2 separate regions of the Homo sapiens genome follow, and region 2 is linked to region 1. The links come from fine-mapping of genetic effects on gene expression. A gene starts in region 1. The other region holds a variant in brackets. All regions are shown on one strand. Distances are between the middles of the regions.

What was found.
Region 2: its variant is fine-mapped to the expression of ASNS in regulatory T cells (Bossini-Castillo 2019, PIP 0.95).

What each region holds. Positions count from the first base shown.
Region 1 is chr7:97,870,230-97,875,615 of GRCh38, reverse strand. ASNS (asparagine synthetase (glutamine-hydrolyzing)) reads left to right here and starts at 3,208. Exons shown (of 13, transcript NM_001673.5): 1 at 3,208-3,265. The region is part of intron 7 of CZ1P-ASNS (CZ1P-ASNS readthrough); the gene reads left to right. RefSeq lists silencers at 2,977-3,066, 3,377-3,486 and an enhancer at 2,612-3,327.
Region 2 is chr7:97,901,228-97,906,613 of GRCh38, reverse strand. All of the region lies in intron 7 of CZ1P-ASNS (CZ1P-ASNS readthrough), which reads left to right. It also overlaps a transcript of ASNS not described here. Among named protein-coding and RNA genes, the nearest start is that of ASNS, 32 kb to the right of the region's middle. The variant C/G (reference allele first, on the strand shown) is at 2,295.

The sequences.
Region 1 (5,386 bases):
GTGTTAAGAGGCTCTATGATCCACCACATTCCGTTTCCCCTGAAGGGTGATCAAGGACACATGCAGAGATGGGGCTTTTGTCAGCCTGGATCCCTGAGTGAACACAATGAACAGACCACCACACAATGCCCTAACACAGCCCAGACATGCAACGTGACCAAGAATAAGCCTCACTGTGGCCAGGCATGGTGGCTCATGCCTGTCATCCCAGAACTTTGGGAGGCCAAGGCGGGTGGATCATTTGAGGTCAGGAGTTCAAGACCAGCCTGGCTAACATGGTGAAATCCTGTCTCTACTAAGTACAAAAATTAGCCAGACAGTGGTGGCATGGGCCTGTAATCCCAGCTACTCAGGAGGCAGGAGAATCACTTGAGTCTGGGAGGCAGAGGTTGCAGTGAGCTGAGATTGCACCACTGCACTCTAGTCTGGGTGACAGAGTGAGACCCTGTCTCAAAAACAAACAAATACCTCACTGCATGGAGCCACTGAGATTTGGGGATTGTCGTTACTGCACCAGAACCCAAATCATCCTGACCGCTAGGGTGTCCTAACTAGGGTTTCTTCCCAAAAGCAAAGGCATTTTTAAAGTTCGTGACATTTAAACAAAAGAGCAAATACCAATATCTACCACTTCGTCAGGCTAACAAACCCAAACAAAGCCAACAGCCAGAAGTTAAAATAAACAGATCATTAGGTTGAAAATAGAACTGTCAAAACAGGCACAATTGACTTCATTTAGTGATTGCAAAGAACATCAGGCAAGACACACGTGTGGTCATCATAACATTTATCACATGCTTAATTGCACATGTTTGACTAAGAAAAACACAAAGTATTTAAGCTCATCTGTAGTTCAAAGTGCCTATCCGTGTATTTATCTATTCATCCTGATGTATTTATTGAGCAACTCTTTTGTGCCAGGCACTGTGCTGTGTTGCGGGAAGTCAGGGACCCCAAACGGAGGGACCAGCTGAAGCCATGACAGAAGAACGTGGATTATGAAGATTTTATGGACATTTATTAGTTCCCCAAATTAATACTTTTGTAATTTCTTATGCCTGCCTTCACTGCAATCTCTAAACATAAATTGTAAAGATTTCATGGACTAAACTTATCACTTCCCTAATCAATACCCTTGTGATTTCCTATGCCTGTCATTACTTTAATCTCTTAATCCTGTCAGCCGAGAAGGATGTATATCGTCTCAGGACCTGTAATAATTGCGTTAAGTACACAAATTATACAGCATGTGTGTTTGAGCAATATGAAATGTGGGCACCCTGAAAAAAGAACAGGATAACAGCAATTGTTCAGGGAATAAGAGAGATAACCTTAAACTCTGACCGCCGGTGAGCCAGGCAGAACAGAACCATATTTCTCTTCTTTCAAAAGCAAATGGGAGAAATATCGCTGAATTCCTTTTCTCAGCATGGAACGTCCCTGAGAAAGAGAATGCGCACCTAGGGGTAGGTCTCTAAACTGGCCCCCCGGGGCGTACCTGTCTCTTATGGTCGAGACTGCAGAGGTGAAATAAACTCCAGTCTCCCATAGCACTCCCAGGCTTATTAGGAAGAGAAAATTCCCACCTAATAAACTTTGGTCAGACCGGTTGATCTCAAAACCCTGTCTCCTGATAAGATGTTATCAATGACAATGGTGCCAAAACTTCATTAGCAATTTTAATTTCACCTTTTGCATCTCCTTGAAATGTCTGCCTTTGCACACTCTCCCTGAAAGAGGAGGGCAAGGGAGCCAGGATAGAAAGTGAGGTGGAGAAGTGTAGAGCTCTGGACGGACAAGCAGGAGATACGCAGCACAAGGAAGCACACTAGGTAACACACCAAGCAGGGGAACCTGTCTTTCACTACATAGGCAAGATGCTACGGGAAATGGGCTCTGGGTTTACACAGATTATGACTCAGTTCTCTACTGTTGTGAAGCTGTGTTTGGATAAATCCCTCAACTTTTCTGAGTCTTATTTTTTCATTTGTAAAATGTAGATAGAAGACCTACTTTCCCACATTGCTCTCAGGTTTAAAGTACGTCAATTAGGATACAGCAAAGTCTGTTTGATACTGAAAACTTTCCAGCAACAATGAACCTTAGAACAAGTCATCTCTCATCTTTGCTCTTGCCTGTAACTACTAAGCGACTACTCCATCTTCTGTTCTTAGGGATTTTAAATTGTTGACGTTTTTGATTTAGTCAGGAATGCGTTGTATGGGGATATCAAACCTGCATGCTCTCCAAGCATTGACTGTAGTCTGATCTTAGTAGGTCGTGCACATATAATTTTACTATTTCTCAATTTATTTCGGTGCTGATGTAATTAGTAAAATACGATTTAAGAGTGTTATGATACTTTTTAAAAATCGTGATGTCTTTTCTTCATCAAAGAGATACTTAAAAGCACATAATCATCTTGTGGAGGCAAGTTGACAAAATCCTTTTTGAGATTCTAAAAGGAATCTTTGTACTTAAAATGTTTAAGGACCACTGATGTATTTTGGCTTCATGTATCAATTAGATTTAGATTTTATTGTTTTAGAGATGGGGGTCTCCCTTTGTCGCCCAGGCTGGAGTTGAGCTCACCTCAGCCTCAAACGCCTGGGCTCAAACTATCCTTCTGCCTCAGCCTCCTGAGTTGCTGGGACTACCATGGTGTGCCACCAATTTTTATAGAGATGTGATCTCGCTGTGTTTCCCAGGCTGGTCTTGAACTCCTGGTTTCAAGTGATCCTCTTGCCTTGGCTTCCCAAAGTGTTGGGATTACAGGCGTGAGCCACCGCTCCTGGCCCCGATTTATTAATAGATCTTATAAGGACATTTTAGGCCTCACGCATCAGTTTCTTAGGACAAGCTTTTCTCTGCACTGCATAATAAATCAGACGGCAGTGCAACAAAAAAACGGTGATGATTTCCCGAAGAACAAACCAAGTTCAGAAGCCTCCCTAATTGTCAGAACAGCAGGTAGCCTGGGCGGAGCTCTGAGGCTATCCTTAAACAGGCGCACTGAGACGCAAGGCGCTGGAAACAAAAGAGCTCCTCCTTGCGCCCTTCCGCCGCCCCACTTAGTCCTGCTCCGCCCCGGACACCCCGCGGCCCCGCCCCTGTGCGCGCTGGTTGGTCCTCGCAGGCATGATGAAACTTCCCGCACGCGTTACAGGAGCCAGGTCGGTATAAGCGCCAGCGGCCTCGCCGCCCGTCAAGCTGTCCACATCCCTGGCCTCAGCCCGCCACATCACCCTGACCTGCTTACGCCCAGGTGAGCCGGGTCCTGCGCCCCGTGCCCTGCGCCCCGCGCCAGCATCCTCCTCGCGTGCCCTGGGGCTGCTCCGGAAGGAAGGGGTGGAGGATGCGGTCTTCAGCCTGGCACCCGGCAGACGCGGTTCGCGGGCGCCTGCTGATGCTGCGGCTCCTGCGGTAGGGAGGGCGGGGCGGACGCCTAGCGATTGTTACGCACCTGACAGCTAGCGGAAGGACCTTTCTGTCCTGGTTCCCTGAAGCATCGAGAGGGAACCGCGGCCGGCAGGCCGGACCGCTCCGGAGAGGAGGCAGCGGCAGTTTGAGCCCCTGTAAATGTTATATGTGTACTTTTTTTTACTATGTGGCGTCGAAGCCTGTGGACATTTTCGCGGTCCGGGTCCCTGCGGCGGACGGGTCGGATCGTGCTCGTGGCCAGGGCGCAGTCAGGTGTCGCGTGGTCCTGATCTAGGAAGAGACTGCGGCCTTATCACCGTCTCGGTGTCTGCTTTCACCTTCAACTGCCCCCCTCCTCACCTGGACCGCTCACCCTCCTCCTCCCCTCTCACCCCGCCATCCCCACCAGTCCCCACCTGTCTCTGTAGACTGCAAGACTCATCAAGTGACTTGCTGAGCAAACCCTGCCGAGAAGAGGTCTGTTTAGGGACACAGGCGACCAAGTACAGAAAAAGGCAAAAGAACTAGCATGCCTTTTTCAATGGCTGTCATTTTGCAGGGCTGGCTTCAGATGATTGTTATAGCTTTAAATAAAAAGGACAGTTTTCATCTCGGCCCGTGGCCTACATTATTTCTTTACTGTCCATTGCCCTGGGCGCTTGACTAATAATTTAACAGCAGTTTTTTTTTTTAAATTTTAAATCATGATTCATAGCATTGCTGTAAGAGTAATTAGAGGTAAAGTAGGGCTTGAACCTGTCTGTAGTTGGTTACTTACTGAGATCTTAATATAAAAGTAAAGGGAGAGGGTGAAGTTGTAAGTAGCACTAAGTGGAATAGAAATTAAATGCACTGAAACTGCCATGTCCAGTTCGGTAGGCGCTAGCCACCTGTAACTGTTGAGCACTTGAAGTGCTGGCTAGTCCTAACTGAGATGTATTGTGTTAAATACACTGGATTTTGTCGTTGGAGTAGGAAGAACAGTGTAAAATATCTGCTCGATAATATTTTATATTGATTACATATATGTTAAAATGTTACTATTTGGGACATACTGAGTTAAGTTTATTTAAAATTAATTTCACCTTTTTCTTTTAATGGGGCTACTAGTATATTTAAAATTACATATGTGGCTTACATATATATTTATTGGACAGCACTGTTCTAGAAGTTTAGGAAGAAATAAGAAAAATATTGAGAACAGGTAGCGGCAGTAGGAACTTTGCCCTCCTATAAGACTGATTCCAATAAAAATAATAGGTTATAGTTTTAATTGGCTTTTTCCTACTAGAAAAAATAAGTGTACTTTACATGCCTCTTTGTTCTCCCTTTTTCCCCTCCAGTTTAGTGGTTAGAATGTATTTATTATAGCAGGATTAATACAGGGATTCACTAAGCAGCGTTAAGAAGACTTAGGTAACTGATTCCCTGATGACCATACTTGATTTTCAAAGCACTTTCCTAACCCGTTTTAAATTGATATAGAGTCAAAGGCAGATGGCTTATTAGTAGTCATCTCATTTAAATCTTATGGAATTTTTCCAGTAAATCTCAAATAATTTGTTATAGGCTATTTGGGCTATTTGGTCAAGTGCATGGAAGAGACAGCATAGGACATGTGGTACTTCATTTCCAAATTGCTTGAGATGATTTTCATTCTAACCATATATTATTTGGTTCTGGTTTTCCGGAAAAGCCAGCTAAACCTTTGGTTCTTTTAGATATAAATGAAATATCATCAAAGAATAGCTCAAAGTGACTTATGCAACTTGAATGTATATTTTTTCCTTAGGGTGTTTATCCCAAACTATTTGGGCATTTGCTGCAATTCGCAGTTTTTTTAAAAAAAACACCAAAATAGTTATTTTTCAAGTTAGAGATGTTTTAATTAAAACATCTTGTTTTTGGTGTATCCATTGACATTCTCAAAACGGAATGTATCTGGACCTCTGTGTACAATCTTCGT
Region 2 (5,386 bases), 31 kb before region 1:
GCAGAAAACTGCAAAGAGGGTTTGGGAAGACTGGGGTCCTGATGGGGAGTTTGGATTTCACTGTGTGTAGCATGGAGAATCCTTGAAAATATTCAAGAGGTGAAAATTGTATTTGTGGAAGAACACCAGGAGTATGTGAAAAGATAACCACTCACTCCATTTTAGCTCCACTGAAGGGGGCATCAACTGGATGCACTGGGGACATGGGTTGGAGGGTAGTTGAGGCCATATCTGGAGGATCTTTACTTCTAGGCTGAGTCTGAAGTTATCTTTCTGGGGAGTGGGAGATTACAAATCTTTGAGCTCCACTCAAGAGATGGTTTTGCTAACAATGGCAGGGCGACGGTGGTGGTGGTGGTGGTGGTGGTGGGAAACTGGTAGCATGAATTCTAACTGGGCTTCTGTTATTCTAGCCGAGAAAATTGGGGAATGGACTTTCAGTAGAATAATACAGATCTGGGAATCAACTGCATGGAGGAGGTAGTTATAGGTGATGAGATGTCTCAGGGACAAAGTTTGGTAGAAGGAGAAAAGATACTAGGCTAGTACAAAAATAATTGCTGTTTTTGCCATTACTTTTAATGGCAAAATCGGCAGTTACTTTTGCACCAACCTAAGAGGATGCAAACTTCATAGCCATCTGCATCAGAGGGATTGATGAAGATCAACAAAGTTTAGGAACACAGGAAAGGAGCGGGGAGGGTAATGACTTGAGGGCATAGCAGGGATAATCAAGGTTTTTCTTGTTAGCATGTGGAGACTTAAGCATGATTATATGTTAAACACCTGGCACATATACGGTGCAAAATATTTATGAGTGAAATGACAAGTGAAGGTGGTGAGTCATGGGAGTTCCAAGGGAACGGATGATAAAGGCAGGTCTCAAATGAGGCACAAGTGGAGAAGGTAGCTTGGAAAAGGAGAAGGATGCTTCTCCTTATAACATGGGAAAGGCAGAGGAAGAGGGTCAAGATACAGTGATCTAGGGGTGAGATGGAAGTGAGTTGAGAGAACTCAACTCTGGGCTCTGAAACCCCTAGGGATGGGTGTTGGGGGCTTTGAGATATGGAAGAGGTTTAAAGTCAATTGTTATAGCAAATATGGTTTGGAATTTATTTGTGATACTTAAAAATATTGCTGAACAGAAGTGAAGTCTACCCTAGAGTTGGATGGTGAGATTATTTAGTGGAACTACCAGATCCATGTTGTGATTCCTTCCAGTATCATTCAGCAGCCCTTGGGCAGTTGCGAGGCAAGTCATCAATGGGGTATGGAGATTTTCCAGGTGGGTGTGGTTGAAGAAAGGGAAGAACAAGTTTAGGAGCACATTACAAGAAGAAGGTGACTGTAAGGTCCAGGCTGAGCAGGAAGGTAAAGCAAGAAGGAAACATGAGGTTGTGAAGAGAAGTTTAGAGGGATGAGGAGGCAGGAGAGGTGAACAGTTGCATGATGTAGCTAGAGTGGCGATGTTAGATCTTGGGGCCAGAGATCTTTACAATGATTATGAAGATCAAAGGGCATTAGAATCAAGCTATAAAGAGCCACTGTTTGATGTTGGGATGTGAGGATGCTGCAGGTGGATGTCTGCACATTGATGGTGAGAACATGGTCATCCTGGCCCTGCTGGGTCTTTGCTAAAGAGACTGTGCTCTGTTCTTGGGGCCGTTTTCATCATCTGATTAGAGCAGTGGTCCCCAAATGGTGTTCTTTGGACCATCTGTATAAAATGTTCATAGGTCAAGGATAAAATGGAAAAACAGAGAAAATGTCACAGAAATGTGCCTATTGTTGAAAGACCACCAGCTGTCGTTTTTGGAGGATTGTTCTTTATTCTAAAAATGTATATATTCTATTCTATTAAAACATTTTTGTATTTGCATTTTTTCTCTTTTATGAAATGCCATGGGGTAGAAATTTGTAATGTATCCAATTCTCCTGTCTTCATGCATTGCCCTGTGGTGGGGGAGGGGATGTGGCTAGTACTGGCCAAGAGGCTGGGGGCAGAGGTGCAATGTTAGACTTCTAGCCTGGAGCATTTAATTCTTAGTACAAGACTCTCTAGCATTCTTCTCCCTCTGTTCCCTGCTTGGTGATACTCGAGGTATTGCAACCCCCATTAACCTTAGTCTTAGGGCAAGTTTGATGGGAAACAGAGCACCCCACACCTCCCTGCAGATGTAGCATGAGTGAGAAAAACAACTTCTGATGTTTGAAGTTACCAAGATTTAGGAGTTGTTTGTTATTGCAGCAAAACCTCACCTATTCTGACCAATCATGGTGGAATTTCTCTCTCT[C/G]TGTGTGTGTGTGTGTGTGTGTGTGTGTGTGTGTGAAACTGGTAGTTTAAAAAAGTTCCTTCTTACCCAAAAGAAAAAAAGATAGCAACCTTATGTTTGTTCTCAAATTAAAAAAATATTTTTACTCGTTTATAAAATAGAAAAATCTGAGAATCTGTAGCTTAGAGAACTACAGTGTGGGATGTCTATAAAGACCAGGTTATTTTATCAGCTCCTAACACCCCTTAATAGAAGCTTAGCCAAGACTTGCACTACTTCAGTCTTTCCCATTCCACATTCCATGGACTCTTGAAGAGACATTGATTAAACGGTGCAGCCATGAACCACCCTAACTCAATCCTAGTGGCAGAACCCCCCTTTTACTGCAGAATGAGCTTCTTGCTACAGTGATACTGCAACCCCTTAGATATATCCTGTACTAATTATATTAAAACACGACCAATGCTTTTGCTTTGTTGTCCCCCAAATTAAACACATTAATCATGAGAACCCAGAGAATTGGATTTAGTGTAACTGATTCCAAACTGTCAGTAAGAACATAATTAAGTTATATTTTTCTCCAATTCAAGTAAAAGAAAATTGACAATAAAATGCTGATCAATATGTGTAGCTCACGAGGTAGAGCCTGCTTTGAGATGCAGAAGTGTTTGTTTTTTTTAGATCTATATTCTTGAGTAAAGAAAAAGTCCATCTCTCTTTCCTAGAGGGGAAGACTTTCAGAGCTGGGCTTGGCAACAGCCTGACTATCAGAGGCTGAATTAAACAAATAGGTACCTCCCTGGAGTGAATGGTGCGTTTCTCCTGTTCGGGGAACCGTGCTTTTATGGTGGAGTTTGTGTTCTGTCTTGGTCTCCGGATGTGTGTATCTGTGGGTGGATGTCTGCATGTAAATGGCAGTGTATACCTGTGTAGGTGTGTACAAAATTCCCATGTGAATCTCAGCTTTGTGGGGATCTCCGGTTCTTGAGCCCAGTAGATGCCATTTGAAGAAAAAAATCACTTGAAAATGAGACAGAAAGAATGGAAACTAAATCCTAGCTCTAAAGGCACCAGGCTGATTAAAAAAAAAAAAAAAAACTCTGGATCTTCTTTGTTTTGGACTCTACCTACCTCTAAATGACATTTCTGTTTCCTATGAGATGATTAGAATGAAAAAGATCCTGAGCACGAAAGAGCAGATACTGTGTGATAGTGTGTATGTCAGGGTGTCAGCTGTGACACTGCTGACATTTTGGCTCAGCAATTTCTCTGTTCTATGTGTGGGGGTTCCCTGTGCATTTTAGGATGTTGAGCGTCATCCCTGGATCCCTGCACTCACTGGATGCAGTAACACAACTCCCCCCAAGTAGACACAACCCCCAGTGTCTCCAGATATTGCCTAATGTCCCCAGGGGGCAAAATAGCCCCATCTGAGAACTGCTGCTTTCATAAAGTACAATGTCAGGTGAAATAGGTGGAGGCTGTTTGTAGTCAGGGGTTAGTAGAGATGGAAGAGACCCCAGGAATATCCTGGAAGGGTCTGTAATATTTTGTTTCTTGAATTGGGTGTCAGCAATATGGAGATGTTCAGTTTTTTGTTGTTGTTGTTGTTGTTGTTTTGAGGCAGGATCTTTCTCTGTCACCCAGGCTGGAGCACAGTGGCACCATCATGGCTCACTGCAGCCTCTGCCTCCTGGGCTCCAGCAGTCCTCCCACCTCAGCCCTCCCGAGTAGCTGGGACTACAGGCATGTGCCACCACTGTTGCCTAATTTTTTATTTATTTATTTTTTGTAGAGAGGAGTGTCTCACTATGTTGCCCAGGCTGGTCTCAAGCTCCTGGGCTCAAGCAATCTGCTCATCTCGGCCTCCCAAAATGCTGGGATGACAGGCATGAGCCACTGCGTCTGGCCAGTATGTTCAGTTTGTAAGAAAAGTACTGTGTTGACCTCTTCTATGTGCACATTTCTTTAAGTAATAATTCAATAAAGCATTTAGAAAAATTGGTCGTAATAGGAGTGATTTGTAGAGTGATTGGCATGAAAGCTGATCACCTTAATTTGAACTACTCTGAAATGAGCACCAGGGGCCACCAAGAGGACCCTTTCAAGGTGTCATAGCCAAGGAGAGGAGTGTGTTGTTTACATCTCTGCATAAAGGATTTGCTGGTTACATGGAAGGATGAAGCCTCCTTCTGAGGACAGAGGCAGCAAAGCAAGTGGAAGCCCAAAGCATTGAGCTTTCCAAATGGACTTTGCTGAAATCTTGTGGATGACTCATGCTCTTAACATACACCCATGTACATATTGTCCATATACACATTAATTCTGTAACAAGGCCCACACTTAAGGGTTTTTTTTTTCTTTTGAGACAGTCTTGCTTTATTGCCCAGGCTAGAGTACAGTGGCATAATAGTGACTCACTGCAACCTCCACCTCCTGGGTTCAAGCAATGCTTGTGCCTCAGCCACCTGAGTAGCTGGGACTACAGGTGCACAACATCATGTCTGGCTAATTTTTGTATTTTTAGTAGAGACGGGGTTTCACCATGTTGGCCAGGCTGGTCTCAAACTCCTGGCCTCAAGTGATCTGCCCACCTCAGCCTCCTAAAGTGTTGGGATTACAGGTGTGAGCCACTGCGCCTGGGCCCACACATAAGGTTTGAGTTGAGATAGAGAAACTCTGGCAGGACTGAGGAATTGGGCCACAGTCTGTGGGAAATATGCACAATTTCTGGAATCTTCTATACTTCCAGAGTTCTCACTCTCTGTCTCCTGTTTATTCAACAAACTTGTATGGAACCACAGTGTGTCTAGAACTTGCCAGGTGTGGAGGATAAAAAGATGACTGAGATCGGGCATGGTGGCTCATGCCTGTAATGCCAGCACTTTGGGAGGCCAAGGCAGGCGGATCACTTGAGGGCAGGAGTTTGAGCACAGCCTGGCCAACATGATGAAACGTCTCTACTAAAAATACAAAAATTAGCCAGGCATGGTGGCATGCACATGTAGTCCCATCTACTTGGGAAGCTGAGGCAGGAGAATCGCTTGAACCCAGGAGGCAGATGTTGCAGTGAGCTGAGATCACATCGCTGCATTCCAGCCTGGGAGACAGAG